Regions from separate parts of the Homo sapiens genome. Here region 1 is linked to region 2. Evidence: fine-mapped expression QTL. Tissue or cell type: monocytes after LPS. Region 2 holds a variant in brackets; the other region holds the start of a gene. All regions are shown on one strand. Distances are between the middles of the regions.

Region 1 (10,755 bases), 47 kb before region 2:
TGGGCCCAAGGCATTATTGGTTAATGCTCCAATTCCCTGGACATCCACATTCATGTTCCTCTTGCAGAAATGTCTAAGAAATTCTAAAAAGAAAGGAATGATTATGTAAACATACCTAACTATGTCAGTTAACTTAGGCAACAACTACGTGGCACCCAGTCAAAACAGACATCACTAAATCCATGGAGTAAAAATTCCTATACTTTAGTGATAGGAGCCTGTATTTACTCCTTCTAGCAGTTATAAATTTAATAAATCTAGTCTTCTACTTTCTAGTCTATATTAAATTAGAAAAGAGAAGCTGCAAAGGCAAGTGCAATGACAGCATGAGTAATTGAAACCTGAGAGCACGGAAGTAGAAAAATCATAAAACAAATAAAAATTTAATATTTATACTACTCGATGGTCATCTAATAGGCCAGGAAAAAGCTGACCTATATTATGACTATGATTCATCAAAAAAAAGCCTGCTGGGCGCCGTGGCTCATGTCTGTAATCCCAATACTTGGGAAGGATAAGGCGGGTGGATCACTTGAGGTCAGGAGTTTGTGTCCTGTCTGGCCAACATGGTAAAACCCCATCTCTACCAAAAATACAAAACTTAGTCAGGCGTGGTGGTGGGTGCCTGTAATCCCAGCTACTGGGGAGGCTGAGGCAGGAAAATCGCTTGAACCTGAAATGTGGAGGTTGCAGGGAGCCAAGACTGCACCAGTGCGCTCCAGGTGATGGAGTGAGGTAATATTTTAGAAAGATTAAATAACTAATGAAGAGGCAGGAGAAAGAATCGGAGATAATTCCCATGTTTCTAGAACTAGAATAAGTAGATTAGTAGTATCATTACACTGTAATATAATGCAGTACAGGGCAGTAGTTTAAAATCCATGTCCTAGAATTAGTTTCCATAGTCACTTGCGTGACTTTTGTTTCCTCATCTATAAAAACACCCTACCAGTGCCGACTCAAAGGGTTGTTGTAAGGGTTAAATGATTTAGAACAGTACCGTAGACAGAAGAAGCAACAATAAATGTTAGCTATAACTGTAACAGGTTGTTAGGGTGCAGTCACTGAGCTTAGTATGGGTCATGTTGAGTTGGGTATCTGAAGGGCACTGAGCAGCTACAAGCATCAGCTCCATTTTCAGATCCTTGGATCCAAATACCAGTTCTATCTGCCAGCAGATTCACCTCTATGGATATCAACTTCCTAATCTTTCACAATAATAAGAGTAAATCACTCACAGTGTTTTTATAAAGATTAAATGAGAATATGCAAATAAAATACTAGGCACAATGCCTAGCACATGGCAAGCCCTTCAAAAACAACAACTGTTATTACTGTCACGTGTGTGTGTGTTTACGTATATAATCATATTATGTTTGTTAGGCAATCTACTAATCCAGCAGGGAGACAATAGGCTGAAGATTTGGGAGTTATTTATAAATATGATAGTTCCAAGAAAATAAAAAGCCAATGAGAATCCTGTGAGCCTACAATATAAAGTAAAATCAGGGAGATAGGTGAAAAACTGGGAGATAGAAGCATTACAGAAGCAAACCCAAGTTTTAAAGGAGATGTTGCCTATATACTGTGTGGCATCAAAAGGGGCTGGAGGTTTTGAAGAAAGTCCACTGAATCTGCAAGTAGGAAGTCACGTGTGTCAAAGCTGTTTATAGAGGGGCAGAAACTTAGCAGGCTGGGGCTAAGGAATGAATGGAAGGTGACACCTGTAGAAGGGACATGTAGACAATTCTTTACAGAATTCTTCCAACTGTCTTCCCATCACCCCCAAAGGCAGTGACATGAGACAGTAACTCTGAGGGACAAAAACACTGTGGAAGGATTATGCTTTTTGTTTTAAGATTGTTTCCACGCCGCTATCACCTTTCCCTTAAAAAAAAAATCATCATCTACACAGCAACTAGTGTAATTTTCTAAAATTCAAATGTGATGGTGTCGTTTCTTCGCTTAAAATTCTTCACTAGCTCCCAATCGCACATTGAAAAAAATATCAAGTCCTTACCAGTGAGGTCCAAGGCCATTTATGAAATGTCCCCTTCACACATCCACTGTGTTCCAGACATGTGAAACTACCTGCAGGCCTTCACGTGTGCCAAGTTCTCTCTTGCTTTTGTATCATTACACACATATCCCCTCCCCTGAAAAATGTGCTTCCTCCTTTGTCTCTCTAACAAACTCCTCACTATCCTTTAAAGGCAAATGATATCTTCTCTAGAGAGCATTCTCACCTTGAAGGGCATTTAAGAACTTCTCTTCTGTGCTTCCAGGGTGCCTTAATCTTTGTAGCTCCCTCTACCTCAACCTTGAATTTTCACCCTGGTAAAATGTTCTGTAACTCCCACCAAACTGCTAGCTTTGGAGGACCAAGCCAATGCTCTCTTATAGTTATGTATCTGCCACTATGAAAGAAAAGAGAGGAGAAGAAGAGAGAAGCGAAGTGAAGAGAAGCAAAAGCAAAGCGAGTAAAAAAGACTCAGGCTTGAGCTCTAGTGTCACCACTTACTGATGTGTGGCCTTGGGCAAGCTACTTAATTTCTAATCCTTGGTTTTTCCTTGTCTGGGAATTTAAAATGGCACCTATTTTAGTACTGTAAGGAGAAGAGAAAATACCAAAAAGCAAAGTAATCAGTACATTGCAATAAAATTACTTTATGTCCATTATTATTGTATTAAAAATAAGTAAATAATTACAAATAAAATATATAAATCATATACTTATTTACTATTAACAGCTTAATACACAACTAAACTAATAAATACTAATATTATGTAATGATAACACAGCAAATACAGTACAGAAATCATCTCTAATTTTTTTTTTTTGGAGACAGAGTCTCGCTCTGTTGCCCAGGTTGGAGTGCAGTGGCACAATCTCAGCTCACTGCTGCCTCCGCCTCCTGGGTTCAAGCAATTCACCTGCCTCAGCCTCCCTGGTAGCTGGGACTACAGGTGTGGGCCATCACACCCAGCTAATTTTTGTATTTTTAGTAGAGATGGGGTTTCACCAACATTGGCCAGGCTGATACTGAACTCCTGACCTCAAGTGATCCACCCACTTTAGCCTCCCAAAGTGCTAGGATTACAGGCGTGACCCACTGCGCTCAGCCATCTCTAAATCTTAATATGTACTACAGCAAACATGATAGAATTAACGGCTAATATTTGATTAGTAACCTCTGCAAAAAATCAGATAGGACTTTAAAAGACACCTCTGATTCTTATATATTCCATTATTTTACAACTTCTCCCTCACAAACCCTTTCACAGGAGCGTCTAAGAGATATTACACAGGAAAATTAAATGGATTACATTTCATCTCATTTTATTTTACAGACAACCTGATTATCAGCCAATATGTGGCTCAATATCATTGGGAGAAAAAACTGAGAGGCTTGATAATTCGCTCCTTAACCAAATGTTATCGCAAGGGAAAAAAAGACAAACAAAAATCCTGTATACAAAATTCAATGAATAAATCAACAAGATTCTTCATAAGTAAACAAGATTCTAACTTCATAAATATTATTCCTCATAAACAAGATTCTAGGTATGGTTTAAAAACACTTTTGGTATTTGAATTTCTTTCAAGCATTCTTTAAAAAATTTCCCAGAGTACTCATAAGAAGCAATCTTCCTCCTAACGCCCAAGCAGTAACAGCAACTGTTAATGCAACAGGTGAAAAAATCGTTGGCATCTCTTTCTCAAAAGAAAGGGGAAAGCTTTATTTTCACAATAGATGTTTTTACAGGAATGCTAAACGCAGCACAACCTTTGATAAGGATTCTTAAATGGTCTACATTTTTGTTCTATTTTTATGCATCTCGAAACAACCCTATTAATATAATTTGGCTCTTATAAATATAACAAATTGATCACCTTTTCTCAGACATAATTAAGAAGGCTTTGACAGGTTGAAGATTCAGCCCCAGGTTGACACTCTAAAAGGAAATAAACACACTCAGTACACATCTGATTTAAAAGCATTTAAATAAGAATCGGGAGTAGGAAAGGCAAAGATTGAATTCTCTATCAGAGCACCATGCTCAACTCTCCGGGGACACGGAGACCAGTGAAAGAAGCGCAAAAGTACGGTGAGGACTCTCAGAAATCGCATTCCCCCGGGACACCCGGCCCACGCTCGTCGGTCACTACGCTATCAGCCTCCGCGCTCTCGGACTCCAGCAGCCCCGACACGCCGCCCAGGAGAGGGCCGGGCAGGCCGAGCACCCCGGCCCGCGCTCCCGCCACCAGCGCACCCATGATGTACTCACGGAGAGGGGTACGCAGAACCGCCCGTCCCGCCGGAGCCGACACCCGGAGCAGTGCAAATCAACTCCCCCAGCCTAGCGGCGCGTGCGCGAAGTGAGGCGGCCACGCAGCCACCTAACCCGCCAGCGACCCGTGTCCTGAAAGCAAGCCGCGGCTCTGTGCCGCAGTGCGGACAGCGCGCCGCCTGCTGACGTCAGCGCCTGCCTACGCCGCCGTTCCCATGGCGACCGATGCGTCCCGCGCTCTAGGCGAAGACCGCGGCCCCGTCCCCGCGCCTCCACCGCCTTCTTCCAGGAGGAGGGGCCGTGCGGCGCCTGCCCGGGGGCCCTCAGGCCGCAGGCGGGCGCGAGCTTCAGGGAACTTAGGGGGCTCCCGCCTCCCCGGCCACGCGAGCGGGAACAGTCTCCTCCACTCGGAGCGGTAAGGGACCCGGAAATGCGCGGGTGCCCCTACAGAGTCTTGAGTTTTCCCCGCCCTCACCTCCGAAAATGCTCTTTTCGCCTTAGAATTGTAGCTAGCGCAGGGAAAAACTGACTGGGCAAAGGAAAACTGGGGAGGCTGTCATGGAAGCCGCCCAGAATAAGAAAATGAATGAATGAGGCAAAGAAACAGATTTGTCACTCCCCACGCGATCGCGCCCACAAAAGAAAACATGGTTTTAAGGCGTGGAAAATGAAGTTGTACTACAGACAAAATTTTAAGAAAAAATTATCCACTGTTCCTTTAGAGCTATCTCCCTGTGTGTGAAAAACAAAACAAAAGTTAAAACGCCATCCTTTTCTACACCTAATGCTCCCTCCCACTTTTCTGATTTCTGCCACAGGCGCCATCTTCAGCTCTGAGTCACCAGGGCTGGAAAAATACTAGATGCGCTACTCGTGGACTCGTGAATACACTCGTGAATACAGGCCATTTCCTGTACCTACAGCCACCCGCTGTAAGCTGTTGCTTCATTTGTACAGTAAGAGTTTATGGAGGCCAGCTTTTCCATTCTTACTGACATTGCCACACCTTACAAACTATATGTCTTGTGCTTCCCTAAATCCTGTGAGGAAGCAACGAGAAAGATTACTAATCCAATGCGTACCGAACTGAGCTGTTCAACTTTCCGTTCTAAACATACTCTCCTAGATTTCTATCTTGCTGTAAGCCACCACAATCCTCCCAGTGTTTTAGTAAGAACAGTAGAGTATCCTAAATGCATCTTATGCCAAAGCATATCCATTCTCTCTTTTTAACTTCCTCAGATGGGCCCTTTACCAGTTCTCTGACTCCAGTTTGACTCTTAAATTCTCCACACTGCTATCAGAATGACCTGACTAAAAATGTAAATCGGATAATGGCACTCTCCTGCTGAAAATTTTTGAAAGGCAATCTGTAAGAGAAAATGATTACTTTGCCTAGGATACAAGATTCTCCATCTCCCTGACTAGTTTCATCTCTCGTTAGCTTCTTGTTCCAATTTTATGCAATATTGAATCATGTGTACCATGCAGTTTTATGCAACATTGAATTATGTGTACCATGAAAAACAATCCATAGCCTTTCACGCCCCGTCCTTACTCATATTGTCCTCTCTTCCTGAAAATTCCTCCTTTTACACTCCTGCATCACAGCCAAATGTTGTCCATCCTTTGAATCTTAAGCAGGTTGACTGACTCCTTCAAACACTCCTACTCCCTATTAGACTTCGGATACTCATTCTATATATTAGACTTTGGATGCTCATTCTATAGTTTCATAGTTTACTTTGTATTTTCTCTATCCCCAGCATCTACCACAGTGTCTATGAAATAGTTGGCATTTCATGAACATTTGTTGAATGAATAATGGATAACATATATTGAGCTCCTTCTAGGAGGTATGCATTGTAGGTGTTTTATGTACTTTTCATCTGTCCTCACAACTGCATTTAAGTACCTGCTTTTCCAAAGGGAAGTTATAACTCTGACTGCTCATTCTTAGTAGGGTGTTAGTTTCAGAATACAATCCCCAGACTAGCGGATGTGTAACCCTGTTATCATCTCTTGCTTCTCCATTTACAGTAGCATGCAGAGGTGCAGTGGGGTGGGGGAGGTCAGGGAATATTTCATAGCAGAAGTGACATTTAAGTAAAGACCAAAATAATGTGTAGAGTTGTCCAGGTTAGGAAGGGTTTCCAGGTAGAAGAAGGTGGCGTATAGTGTTCACTACAAGAAAGTTTGGTATAATACAAGAACTGGAAGAAAAAAAAAAAAAGTTCAAGTTGGCTAACTAAAAGGTAGAGAATGAGACTAGGGGCTTTTGGAGGAGACAAAACAAGAGAGTTAAACAAGCTATGAAGAGACCCAGACAGTATTGGTCAGTGGAATACCACTATAGAATTTTATGGAGTGAAATTTTCAAATTTTAATATCATAAAGATAACTCTGGCTGCAGGGTGGAGAACAGACAGGAAGGAAGCAAATCTAGATCTGGGAATACCATTTAAGATGCCGTTGCTGTAAGCCATGTAAGAGACAAAGGTGGCATGGTCAAGGCTAAGAAAAATCAGAATGGAGAGAAATGGACCAATTTGAGAAATTTTTAGGAGGTAAAAATGTCAGGACTTAGTGATTGATTGGATGGAAGAGTGAATGATAAGAAATAATAAAAAACGATGACCAGCTGTTTTGCCTTCCCCTTGGCAAGTAAAGAGGTGGCAAGCATGAAAGGGGAGTGAGGAAATAAATATGTTGGGTCTAATGGGAGCCAGGTTTCTCACTGACAGAGAAGGACGTTACAAATTGAGAGAGGAAGAATTCCACAGTGACCTTTGTGGTGATGTTGAATTGGAATTGAATATGTCAGTGTCAACTCATAGTTTTCAATATATACATAAACATATGTAAAAATAAATATAGAGGAAAGTATGTCTGTATGTGTGTGCGTATCTATCTATTATGCTCTTCCTAGCTCTATCTGCTGAAAGGGTTTCAGAGTAATGGTATACTAGAAGCAATGAGCACATGTGCCTAGATCTTGGTTTCTGAACAGTATTATTCACTAAAAGTAACTGGGTCCCTTGGAGAAATGGTTGATTTTAGAACAGGAGCCTGGAAAATTCTTGTTGCACCAGAAGTTAAGGAAGTTAATACAGAATGAAGAAACATATCAAAAGGTCACAGAAGCCAGCTTGAAGGAGCCACCACTGGCCACATCTGGGTCAATCTGAGCACCAATATAATGTTAATGGATTATAGTCCGCTAAATAAAATAGGAATATTTGAGCCCATACTAAAATGAATAAATGATTTTTTTGAAAAATCAGGATAAAGAAAAGCTCTGCCTTACATAAAAATGCCAACTAAATGTAATGAATGTAGACAGTGTTATATGTAGAAACATCATTATTTGGCAGTCATGATAGTAACAGTTGATTCAGACTAGAATCATCAGTGTATGCTAAAACTAGAGGGTGAGAGTATTAAGAGACATATAATATTTATATAGTCTCAAAGTATCTCTCCAGCAAATACTTATTAATTACACAGAGAAAAATTAGAAAACTTGACAGTGTAGAAATCTGGCACTGGTGAGCGAAGTTACCATCAGCAGTCATGAGACAAATCAGCATCGTGTATGTCCTGGTTAGAGGCACTTAGAATACACTTCTGTGACATTCCTGCCAAAAATGTGTAATCCGAATCAATCGTGAGGAAAAAATCAGACAACCCAAATGTCCCAAATTGAGGGACATTCTACAAAATAATAGACCTGTACTCTTCAAAGATCAAGGTCATGAAAGACAAAGGAACAACTAAAGAACGTTTTTAGATTGAAGGAGAATTAAGATACATGACAATTAAGTGGAATACATGATTCTGAATTGAATCCTTTTGCTATAAGGATATTATTGGGACAACTAACAATTTGAATGGGGTCTCTGGATTAGATGGTAGTATTTTAACAATATTAATTTCCTGATTTTGATGACTATAGTGACATAGATATTTTTGGTTTTAGAAAATACATATTGAAGTATTAAAGGTGATGAGGCTTCATATCTGCAACCTATTCAAATGGTTCAGGAAAAAAGTATACATAAATACTGTAAATAAATATAAACATAAATAATATACATAAAGAAAATGATAAAGCAAATGTTAACAGGGAATTTGGGCGAAAGCAGAAGTTCTTTATACTATTCTTGCAATTTTTCTGTAAGTTTATAATTATTTTAAAACTATAAAAGAAGTTTGAAAGGTGCCGAGGTTTCTGGCTCAGGTAACTGGGTGGAGAATGGCTAATCAGTTAACGACAAAAAATCAGGAAGAGCAAGCATGGAGGAAAAGATGTTTAGTTGCAATGGGATGTATGGAGTGGGATGTTCAGCAGGCAGTTGAGTATATACTAAACATATTAATGAGCCCCATTCAAACTGAATAAAGCAGATATGTTGCTTTAGCTCTCATTAGTCGAGAGTGCAAGACCAAGGGCACTCCGCTATCCTAGGAGAGGCAAACAATTAAGAGTGGTAGTATGGTAATAATTCTAAAAATTGGCTGAGTATCCATGAAAAAAATTGTGTGTATATATATATATATACACACACATATATGTATAAACATATATACACACATATATGTATAAATATATATCCACATATATGTATATATATACACACATATATGTATATATACACACATATATGTATAAATATATATACACATATATGTGTATGTGTGTGTGTGTGTGTATATATATATGTATGTATATAAATTGAACCGTTTAGGAATAAAATAGATTTAGGGTATTCGACACATTTAATACATAATGAATAGTGAATTTCTTGAATAATATAATGCCTAAATGTGACTGATATGCAAAATATTTAAATCCCTTACAGGATGTGCATTTACCAATCAGAACAGATGTTGGCTTTACTGCTTGTATTAGTTTTCTGTATTAGTTTGCTTGTATTAGTTTGCTGGGGCAGCCATAACAAAGTACCACAGAAATTTATATTCTCACAATTCTGGGGGCTAGAAGACTGAGATAAAGATGTCTGCAGGGTTGGTTTCTTCTAAGGACTCTCTTGTTGGCTTGTAGATGGTTGTTGTCTCCCTGTGTCTTCACCTGCACTTCCCTCTGTACCTGCCCGTATCTTAATCTCTTCTTATAAGGACAGAGTCATATTGGATTAGGGCTCACCCTAATGACCTCCTTTTAACTTAATTACCTCTTTAGAGACTCTGTCTTCAAATACAGGCACATTCTGAGGTACTTTAAGGTTAGAACTTCAACATATGCATTTGGAACTGGGGCATAACTGAGTCCATGACACTATTGGAGAGGGTTCTGGAGCCATAACAGATGGAATGAATGGGCCTTGTTTGGATTCTAATTTAAATAAACCAACTATAGAAAAACATGTTTTAGGCAATCAGATTTTTTGTTATGGGCTAAATATTTAGAAGATGTTAAGAAATGTTTATTAATTTCATTAGGTAAAATAATGTTGGTGTGGTTATGTAGAGTATGACTTACGTGCACAGAACAGAATGATAAGGTGTCCAGGATTTGCTTTAAAATATTCTAGATTTTTTTAAAAGGTGAGAGGAAATGACACATGTATATCTAAATTTTGATGGTTGTTGAAGCTGGCTGGTAGGTACCTAGTATTTCATTATACTTTTTCCTTTGTGTGTTTGGAAATTTTTATAATAAGCAGGAAAAATAAAAGTAAGAATATATGTATTATAGATAATTTGAAATATGTAGAATCATGAAAAAAAGGAAAAAATACTCAATACCACTACCCAAGAGAATCTAAATTAACTTTTTTGACAAATTTCGTTTCAGTCTGTTTTCCATGCGTATTTTAATTTTGGTCATGTTGTGTGTAAAATGTTTATTTCTGCTTACTTGAATGAACATTATGTTGCAATTTCATTTCCATGCTATTACAATAGTGCCCCCTTAACCATGGTTTTGCTTTCTGAGGTTTCACTCAACAAGCTTGGTTTGAAAATTTTTAGAGAGAAAATAAGAGATTACATTTACATAATAACTATTAATACAGTATATTGTTATAAAAACTTTATATTGTTATTAGTTATTGCTGTTAATCTCTTACTGGGCCTAATTTATAAATTAAACTTTATGAGAGGTGTGAAAGTTGATTATAGAAATTGGGTCATTCTTGTTGTACCCAACTAAATCAGAGTGAAGGGCCCAGGGGAAAAAGCATTTGGGGCATATAGCATCTGCTCCAAGAATTAAATTTTCCACAAGCCCAGCTACTGAAACTGCCTGTTGTAATCTGAAATCAGTTTTATCTGATAGCTAATGAAATAACCTGCTGTGACACTAAGATTAGTTTTACCCACTGCCATCACTCGCCAATCAGAGCTCGCCAGCTCCCCAAATGTTACCCATTGTTTCTTTGCAAAACAATGGGTAACATTTTTCCTTTTTATAAAACCTCCAACCTGATCTTTGTTTTT
Region 2 (10,755 bases):
GCCCTAGGATTTACCAAACACCTTGGATCATCTTGGAATCCTCTCATTCTAAGATAACAGATCTCTCTTCTGGCCTCCTATGGGTGTTTGGATATAAAAGACAGATACACAACTTTCACATCCAGGCCCTCAGATACACATTTCCCAGGGTAGCCCTGAGGTGGTGCTGCTGTACTTGTGGTCACATCTTGGTTTGAAAACGCTGGTAGAGAGAGTGGAACTTTTCCCTTCTTTTCACAAAGAGTATGGGGCTTTTGCAAGGCCAAAAATAGAAAAAAAAAGCCTAAAGTTGGTGCCTACATGTTTGTGTGGAGCATTTAAGCTCAAACAGGGCATATATATGTTGGGTAAGAAAGTGGATATTCATCCATAATGACAGTATACTGGTGATATCTCTGCTATGTCTTGACATAAATAGGATTCCTATAGTTTTACCTTGCTCAGTTGCAGGAGTGGGAAAGGCAGCTGAGTGGGGAAACTGAGTCAATATATACAATGTTAACAGTAGACTTTTGAGCCAAAGGATGGGGTGGACACATTCAAGAATGAAAGGAATAGTGGGTTTGCAACCGTAGAGGCTGAGAGCAACATTAAGTAACAAGTCACAGACAGCACTGTTCTCTCAACTCCCTCTGTGCAGTGCTAGTGTATATGAGTGGGGGTCCCCTGATAATGTCTACTCACACAGGAGCCAGCTTGAGTCAGTGGACAGCTGGGCTGACCCTACCTGCATTTGTACTTCAAAGCTATGTGATACTTTAGTGTATTATAGGCTGCACTTGGAGGTGTGTTGTTTTGAAGACAGATTTGTGGCACAACCAGTGGAATATTCTCTGCCCAAGAGTGGCGGCTGAGGCATCTAGCTTATTAAAAAGGCCTCCAAACTGGTCTCCCTGCCTCCACCCTTGCCCCTCACAACTCTACTCTCAACAAAACAATAGAAATGATCACTTGAGAATCAAACTCTGTCTTCTCTACTCAAAAACCCTTCTATGGCTCCTCTACTCAGGCTGAAAGTCAAGGTCAGTACCATGGCCTCTAAGGCCCTTTGTGATTTGTGTCCCCTCCCCTACTCCTCTGACTTCATCTCCTCTTACTGGTCCACACTTCTGCCCCAGGGCCTTTGCATTTGCTTGTCTTTCTGCTTAAAATACTCTTCCCTATATATTTTGGGGAGCTCATTCTTCTTCTCCTTTAAATCTTTGTTTGAGTGTCATCTTTGCAGAAAGGCTTTCCTTGACCACCGATTTCGATTTAAAGTGACATCTGACTGAGCCAGAAAGAAATAGATTCCCTGAATAGATAAATAATGAGCTCTGAAATTGAATCAGTAATAAATAGCCTACCAACTAAAAAAGCCTCAGGATCTCATGGATTCATAGTAGCATTCTACCAGATACATAAAGAAGAGCTGGTATTATTCTTACAGAAACTATTCCAAAAAATTGAGGAGGGACTTCTTCCCAACTCATTCTATGAGGCCAGCATCATCTTGATACCAAAATTTGGCAGAGACACAACAAAAAAGAAAACTTCAAGCCAATATCCTTGATGAACATTGATGGAAAAATTCTCAACAAAGTACTTGCAAACCGAATCCAGCAGCACCTGAAAAGGTTAATCCACCATGATCAAGTAGGCTTCATCTCTGGGAGACAGTGTTGGTTCATGAATAAATGTGATTCATCACATAAACAGAACTAAAGACAAAAACTACATGATTATCTCAATAGATGTGGAAAAGACTTTTGAAATAATTCAACATCCCTTCAAGTTAACAAGTCTCAAAAACTAGGTATTGGAGGAGCATGTTTCAAAATAATAAGAGCCATCTATGACAAACCCACAACAAACATCATAGTGAACAGGCAAAAGCTAGAAGCATTCCCCTTGAAAACTGGCACAAGACAAGAATGCCTTTTCTCACCACTGCTATTCAACATAGTATTGGAAGTCCTAGTCAGAGCAATCAGGCAAGAGAAAGAAATGAAGGGCATTCGAATAGAAAGAGAATTCAAAGTATCTCTGTTTGCAGAAGGTATGATTCTATATCTAGAAAACTCCATAGTCTCAGCCCAAAAGCTCCTTCAGCTGAAAAACAACTTCAACAAAGTTGCAGGATACAAAATCAATGTACAAGAATCACTAGCATTCCTACACACCAACATCAACCAAACTGAGACTCAAATCAGAAAGGCAATCCAATTCACAATTGCCACACATACAAAATAAAATACCTAGGAACACAGATAAGCAGGGAAGTAAAAGATCTCTACAATGAGAACTACAAAACACTGCTCAAATAAATCAGAGAAGACACAAACAAATGTAAAAACATCCCATGCTCATGGGTAGGAAGAAGCAATATCTCTAAAATGGCTATACTGCCCAAAGCAATTTCCAGATTCAATGTTATTCCTATCAAACTACCAACTTCATTTTTCACAAGGCTAAACAAAATTATTTAAAAATTTATGTGGAACCAAAAAAAGAGCCCGAATAGCCAAGGCAATCCTAGGCAAAAAGAACAATGCAGGAGGCGTCATGTTACCCGACTTCAAACTATTCTACAAGGCTACAGTGACCAAAACAGCATGGTACTGGTACAAAAGCAGGCAAATAGACCAATGGAACAGAATGGAGACCCCAGAAATAAGGCTGCATATCTATGACCAACTGATCTTCGACAAAACTGATAAAAATAAGCAATGGGGAAAAGACTCCCTTTTCAATAAATGGTGCTGGGATAACTGGCTAGCCATATGCAGAAGATTGAAGCTGGACCTCTTCCTTATACCCTAAAATCAATTCAAAATGGATTAAAGACTTAAATGTAAAACCTCAAACTATAAAAACCCTGGAAGACAACCTAGACAATACTATCCTGGACCTAGGAATGGGCGAAGATTTCACAACAAAGACACCAAAAGCAATTGCAACAAAAGCAAAAGTTGACAAGTGGGATCTAATTAGGTCAAAGAACTTCTGCACAGCAAAAGAAACTATCATCAAAGTAAACAGACAAGCTACAGAATGGGAGAAAATATTTACAAACTATGCATCTGAGAAAGGTCTAATATCCAGCATCTATAAGGAACTTAAACACATTTACAAGAGAAAAAACAACCCTATCAAAAAGTGGGCAAAGGACGTGACCACTTTCAAAAAGAAGACATGCATATGGGCAAGAAGCATATGAGAAAAAGCTCAATATCACTGATTATTAGAGAAAAGCAATGAAAACCACAATAAGATACCATCTCACATCAGTCAGAATGGCTATTATTAAAAAGTCAAAAAATAACAGATGCGGGGGAGGTTGTGGAGAAAAGGGAATACTTTATTACACTGTTGGTGGGAGTGTAAATTAGTTCAACCATTGTGGAAGGCAGTATGGCATTTCCTCAAAGAGTTAAAAGCAGAACTACCATTTGACCCAGTAATCCCATTACTGGGTATATACCCAGAGGAATATAAATCATTCTACCATAAAGACACATGCACGCAAATGTTTATTGTCTCACAATACCAAAGACATGGAATAAACCTAAGTGCCCATCAGTGACTGACTGGATAAAGGAAATGTGGCACATACGCACCATGGAATATTATGCAGCCATAAAAAAGAATGAGATCATGTCTTTTGTGGGAACATGGATGGAGCTGGAGACTGTCATCGTTAGCAAACTAACACAGGAACAGGAAACCAAATACTGCATATTCTCACTTATAACTGGGAGCTATATGATAAGAACTTATGAACACACAGAAGGAAACAACAGACACTGGGGTCTACTTGAAGGGGGAGGGTAGGAGGAGGAAGAGAAGAAGAAAAGATAACTATTGGGTACTCTGTTTAATACCTGGGTGGTGTAATAATATGTACAACAAACCCCTATGACATATGTATATCTATGTAACAAACCTTCACATATACCCCAAAACTAAAATAAAAATTAAAAAAATTAAAAAAATTAAAATTCATGAAAAAAAAAGTGACACCCAACACTTCCTAACCCATGTCACTGCTTTATTTTTCTATTTTCTTCATTCATTCATTCATAAGTTCCATGAGAGCAGGGCTTTTTCTCTTTTGTTTTCTGCTACAGGAACAGTAAGTGCCTAGAACAATAAGTGGTGATTAAGAACTAGCTCCTTGCTGAATAAATGAAAGAATATGTGTATTATCCCAAACCATAATGTTTCTTGGTGTCAGTAACACTGGGAGTGGGCACTGACCACGTGGTCCACATGCAGAATATGCACAGCTATCCTCGCTGGTGACCTTCTTGCTTTGTGGATGTCAAAGAAAGTAGACAGCTATATGGACTCTGCCACCTGGATAACTCTAGAGGTGAGTGGTAGGGGTTATGAACAGCACTGAGGAGCTGGGAGTGGCTGTTTGTTGGGTTTCTAGCTTCAGGACAAGTTCTATGAGTTTCCTGAGCCCTCATGATCTAAAACTATGAAGCATGATGGTGCTGGGGTGAATACTCATTGTGTTGCTTGCTCGGTACTCACTATCCTAACTTTGTTCTGAAGGACCCATTTCTCCCTCACTCTGTGTGTTTCAAGTAAAATATGTACTGAAGAAAATGCCACCTATTTTTATAAATACTGTGAACTAAGAATGATTTTTATATTTTTAAGTGGCTTCAACAAAAATCAAAATAATAATATCTAAATTTCAGTGCCCATAAAGTTTTATTGTAACTTAGCCATGCTAATCCATTTATGCATGGCTGCTTTTGCTCTACAATGGTGGAGGTCAGTAGTTGTGACAGAGACCATGTGGCCTGCAAAGCCATAAATATTTACTATCTGGTCCTCTATGGCAAAAGTTTGCCAGCCTCCACCTCAGACTGTCGCTGTGGTTAGAGTCCTATGATCACAGTGGGTGGTTCAGCACAAGACCCAGGTTTAAACGTCTGGTCTTTTCTTTGAACTACTTGGGAAGCTAGCTCTAGCTAGCTAGCTAGCTAGCTAGCTCTTCTGCTGCCTCAGGTGAGAAACTGAGGATGTCAGGAAGCATCAGGCAGCCCCTAAGGATGAGGTCGTAATCAAGCTTGATTGAAACCATTCCAACTCTAGAATTTTCAGCTGTGCCAATCAATACATTTTCTTTAATCTTAAATTAGCTAGCATTTTAAGATCTTTGTTGCTTACAGCCAAAGAAACTTAACTGATAAAGTCATTTGGAAGAAATCCTACTCCAGGTATACAGGGAACAGAATTAATGAGTTCCCAAGATGATTGCCTTATGGTGGCAACAGCAGTTGCCTGGCAGAAGATAGGAAATCTGTCTTAATAGTGCCTTCTAGGACCCAAATTTGTCCTGCTCTGGTAGAAATCCTAGAAGATCAGGAATACAGGAGATGCAATTAGTGTTTAGGATCTTCATTTAACAGCACACATCTGTGTCTTCCCTTGGCATAAATACTGGGAGAATGCAGTACTCAGGATTTTTATATCCTCTTATTGGAATTACCCACATAATATATGATTTATTGCCTATAGACTTCTCAATTTCTATGTACACAATAGCAGCACTACCATATTTTTTAATTCAAATGAAATGCATGAAGATGTTTGGGTAGAAGTAATAGAAAAGTTTAGTAATGAATAATGTTTCATTATTCTGTCTATTTTCTGAACATCAGTCATTATCAAATATAGACTCATAATCAAATAATAATACATACACCTACAATATTTTGATTATGATGTTTTTAGAAACATACATCTCTTTTCCCTCCTACTGATTAATCTCCTTGCTGTTTAAGCAGCAAAGCTGCTTTCCACTCAGTATCTCAGGGAAAGGATATGACATGGTAGACAACAGAAAACAAATGAAACAACTCCCCCACACTCCCCAAATTCAGGAAACTTCCTGGCAAAAAGCTCACTCCTTTAGGACAATAGAGAGTCTCTGGGTAGAGCCAAATTATATAAGAGAAACATCAAGGGTGACTGTTGCTTTCGCCTTCTGGAGAGGAAAAGATTCCCAGGGGTTTA[T/C]ATAGAAAAGGAAGGGGAAAAGAGGGAACAGGGAGGATGTGGTGGCAGTGCGTTTGGATGGGTTTCAAAGAGGGAGCCCCAGTTCCATCAAGGACCTTGGAGCCCCTGGAGGCTTCTCCCTCGGGTTCTGTGGGGCCAAGGAGAGGCGTCCCCTCAATCCCACCTGGATTCCCTGCTGGATCAGCCCTAGAAGGAAGCTTCCTGGGGCTGCTCCCACTTCTGCTTAAGTGTGGCTACACCGTGGAGGGTGGGTCCTTAGGAATGTGGCAAGGGCAGCAAGATTGAGGGGGCCATAGTGGTGCGGGCATGTGGAGGGGGCACAGGCTTTGGCCCGCGGGCCTGTGTTCCTATCCCTCCCTCTGTCGTTCCCTGTGACCAATGGGCGGAGGGCCCATTCTTGGCAGAAACCCAGGGAAGTGGCAAAATTCCCAGACAGTGTTGTGAGAGCAGTAGAATGTTCACAACCTCCTACCCTTGCCCTAGCATCAGGGTTTGACAGAAAAATTAGATTGAATGAAATAAAAATATTTCTCACCCACTTGCGTTCATGGATGGAGATTGATGACCTTCTAGGTCAGACACATTTGTTTCCATTAGTGTGGAAAATCAAGAGTTGACTTCACTCCTCAGTTCTTCCAAGGGTGACAGTTAAATTTTGGCTGCACACCAGCAGCCAATGGCATGCAAGTGTTAGAGCAGGTTATCTGCATTTCATGTGCTGGATTTTGCTTCACTGCAATGCACTATTGTTCATTTTGAAGAACTGCTTTTTCTTCATTTGATTATGAAGTCCATTCTTCACTGAGAAAGGGTGAATCACTGGGTTTCATTATGGAGCTCTTGAAGTTCAGGGAGAGCGATTTTCATACTAAGTTCATTTTCTTTAACATATAACCAGTGAAATAATAGAACAAAAATACATTTATCTTTTATAATTGTTTCCCTCCTCTAAGACATAACAGTATTAACATAACAGCTATACTGCATAATTCTTCTTCAACCAAAGAACAAGAAGATTAATCTATTCTATTTATTTATAAAATCTCCTGATATTTCTGATACTGGTTTTTCCCGTCATTCACCTGGTGGAAAAAGCAAGGTGGGGAAATAAACGATGGTGACAGCTTTTTGCTGGCAATGCAGAATGAGGCCCTTGATGTTATTGTGGCCCAAGGGAAAGTGTGAGTACTATATTCATCAGCAGTTCTCAATCGGGCTATTTTGCACATTAGGGGCTATTTGGCAATTTTGGGAGATATTTTTGATTGTCAAAACTGGTGAGGTGGGTAAGGTGGAAGGTATGCTACTGGCATCTAGTGAGAAGCGAGATGAAGCTAAACATCCTACAATGCAGAAGATAGCCCCAGCCCCTGGCAAATAGTTATCTGGCCCAAAATGTCAATAATAATTCCAAGGTTGAGAGACTCTGATATAAAGTAATCAGGAAAGGAGGAAAGATCTGAGTATGTTAGGATGATTGGCAGGGTTTTTGCAGACTGAGAAGAGCCATATGGACATTTGTTGAAAAAGGGGGAAAGAGAGACACCTGAAGAGTTGGATAATTCTTTTATACTATGTAAGGCATATTTTAAAGGGCTACCGTTTTTAGAGGGTACGTTCTTACCAACTTTTTAAGGAGAGGATAAAATTCTGTGAAATCAATATTATGGTTATTAAAAGCACAAAAGGACCATAATTGTTTCATGATTTGTCTTGCTAATTTCACATACTATGATGTTTTATGTGCTGAGTGGAGATAAATGTGTAAACAAAAATACGAAGGTGACAAAGCATGGTATATTTCTACCTGGCTAGGTTGTATAGGCCAGTGAATGTCTAGGGGAAGGGTGGTCCTGGAGCCAGGTGAGAGAGATCTTGAATGGAAAGTTACAGAGTTTGAATCAATTCATTAGAAATGGAGGCAGGTGTATTATAGGGTTCTCCAGGTAAACAGAATCAATAGGGTGGGGAGGGAGGGAAAGAGAGAGAGAGAGAGAGAGAGATGAGAGAGATTTAGTTTTCAATTGAGGGAGCTGGCAAGTCCTAGATTTGTATGACGGGCAAGCTGGAGATTCAGGTCAGAGTTGATATTGCAATCTTAAGTCTGGAAACTCTTCTGCATCTGGAGGCAGAATTCTTTCTGAGGGCAGTGAGAGGCAATCTATTCCATACTTCTCACCCAGCTTCTTGTTGTTTACTGATCATTTTTGGCGTTCCTTGTAGAAACATCACTCTTATCTCTGCCTTCATCTCATATGATGTTTTCCCTCTGTGGTTGTCTGTGTATAAATTTCCCCATTTTTTTCTATAGACACCAGTTATATTGGATTAGGGCTCACCCCAGTGACCTCATGTTAACTAATTATAGCTTCCACAGCCTTATTTCCAAATAATGTCACATTATGAAATACTGAGGGTAAGGACTTCAACATATGAATATGTCAGAGGCAGACAGTTTCACCTGTAACAGGGGGTTTGCATAGAGCAGTGACATTTTCTGAATTGTTCCATGCTGGCAACATTGCCCAGTTTTCTTCTCAGGGACATCAGTTATAGGAAAATGCTATAGTGAAGGCAAATGGGACAGAATCTTAAAATATTTGTGAATCTTTGTTTTTTCTTGTTCTAATGATAATGTAAATGTAGAAAACACTAACACATTGTAAAACACAGAAAGCAAAATAGGTATTATACTGCTCAGTTATGATACTGCTCATAACCCAATTTATCAGTAATAGTATGTCTATATTTAAATATCTAAAAGGACTATTTTTTAAAAAATATGGGTCTTGCTACTTTGCCCAGGCTAGAGTGCCGTTTGGCTATTCACAGGTGCAATCATAGTTCACTGCAGCCTTGAACTCCTGGCCTCAAACAATCCCCCCACCTCAGCCTCTCAGCCTCACGCGCAGCTGGGGCTACAGGTACGCTCCACTGAGCCCAGCTATGGAATATCTATTTTTAATAAAAATGTGAATCATAGCATACGTACTGTTCTGTTATTATCCCTTGTTTTCTTTTGGACATTTTGGACACCTTTTCGTGTCAGAACATAAAGACCTACTAATTCTTTTTTATTTACTGCCTAGTATTTCATTGAATGAATGTGCTATATCTGTTTAACCAATCCCTTATTGAGTGCCATTTGGGTTATTTCTAAATTTTTACTTTTACAAGAAATATTACAGTGAATGTCATTGAACATATATCTTTGTACAGTAAGTAATTTTTTTTGCTGGGTATTTTTTTTTTTGCTGGGTATATTTTTAGGGATAGAATTGTTGAGCCAAAAGGTGTGATCATTTTAAACTATAACAGACATTTCAAATGCAAAAATGCTGCATCAAATTTTTTTCCCTCCCACTAAAAACATATGAATTAGATTAGTAATTCCTACATAGAAAGAATTAAATAGACTACACTGATAGTGTATTTAATGACACTATGCCAGCACAATAATTCCTGTAATAATCAAAGAATAGTTACCATTGTTTTATTAATATACACTTATTTGTCCTCCATAGAGCTCTTGTTAATAAATCTTAGCTTATTGCTAAGATTTGGGACTTCTTCCAGATGGAGTTTATGATTAAATGCTAATCACATTGTTACCGAAGTGTTCAGCTTTATTCATTATTTGTTTGATGTTTGCCATAAAAATTACAGCCCTTATAACCCATTATTTTGGTTTCAACTTCTCAAAATAAATTGAAATATATGTTAAAAACTTAATGTTTGATTACTGTTTAAAATGCTAAAAAATATGATCCAAAGTATCAGTGCTTAGAACTAGAAAACCCAAATAGCTTTAATCCTTTTTGGGGGCTTTCTTTTCACCCCCGTGATGTGTGGGTGTGTCAAACGTGGATTCCTTCCTGTTGTTCTGTTTGCTGGAGCAAAGAATCATGTCTTGATAAATTCACAAGACTAGTGAATTTCATCTAGTGTAATATTGAGGAGTCCAGATCATGGAGAAGGTGTGGCTAGGACTGGTACCCCCCAAATACTGTCATCTCCAATCACAATTCTGGAAAACAGTTTGATATAAGAACATCAATGAAATGGTAATTTATTACACCAGTAGAGTGGAGCTCAGCTATGGAGACACAAAGCCTGGTGAGACTTGGAAATCCTGGGCTTAGGCCGTCAGTTTCTGGGGTCTGTTAAGAGGATGCAGAGTGCCAGCCACAGAGCTGAGTGTCAGAGAAGGGCTATAGAATAGGGGAGGAGGAATAGAAGAGCCACTTGGTGTTCTTGTTGTAGGAGGCACATTAACACATCAGAAATGTTCCAACAGAGACCAAGCTAACAAACTGGAGACCATGAAATGCAGATAGTCTCTGGAGACTACACATCCAATGTCTGAATTTTCTAATTTACTTTTCAAGGCAAAGTCATTGATACCATGTTTTTCTCCACAATATTTTTGCCTGTACCAACCAAGAGATAACATACGGCACTTCCTAAAACAATACGATTGCCTTCTGGATTTTCTTCCAAATCAGTGATACCTGTTCTCCAAGTTTTGATGATGACACTGTCTTTAGCTTATCAGAAGGTGGCCATGGAAGATGCTCAGTCAACGAGCAAGATTCATATTTCTTCCTGAAATGGTTTTGAAATAGTTGTTGCGGGAAATGTGAAGGGATTGTGGTCATGCAGTCATGTCACCAGAAATAACCAAATTTATCCGCAGCTGTTGTCAGATACAATCAATAGCAAGATAAGCCTCAATTTCAA

The links. PIP is the estimated chance that this variant, and not a neighbour inherited with it, causes the effect.
Region 1: it holds the start of AHI1, and the variant in region 2 is the best candidate, but not a certain one, in a credible set for the expression of AHI1 in monocytes after LPS (Fairfax 2014, PIP 0.64).

What each region holds. Positions count from the first base shown.
Region 1 is chr6:135,493,293-135,504,047 of GRCh38, forward strand. It overlaps AHI1 (Abelson helper integration site 1), which reads right to left and starts at 4,448. Exons shown (of 29, transcript NM_001134831.2): 1 at 4,291-4,448; 2 at 3,896-3,957; 3 at 2,522-2,606. AHI1-DT (AHI1 divergent transcript) reads left to right here and starts at 4,509. Exons shown (of 6, transcript NR_152842.1): 1 at 4,509-4,708; 2 at 5,112-5,225. RefSeq lists silencers at 4,159-4,218, 4,569-4,788.
Region 2 is chr6:135,540,520-135,551,274 of GRCh38, forward strand. The region is part of intron 2 of AHI1-DT (AHI1 divergent transcript); the gene reads left to right. Among named protein-coding and RNA genes, the nearest start is that of AHI1-DT, 48 kb to the left of the region's middle. The variant T/C (reference allele first, on the strand shown) is at 6,016.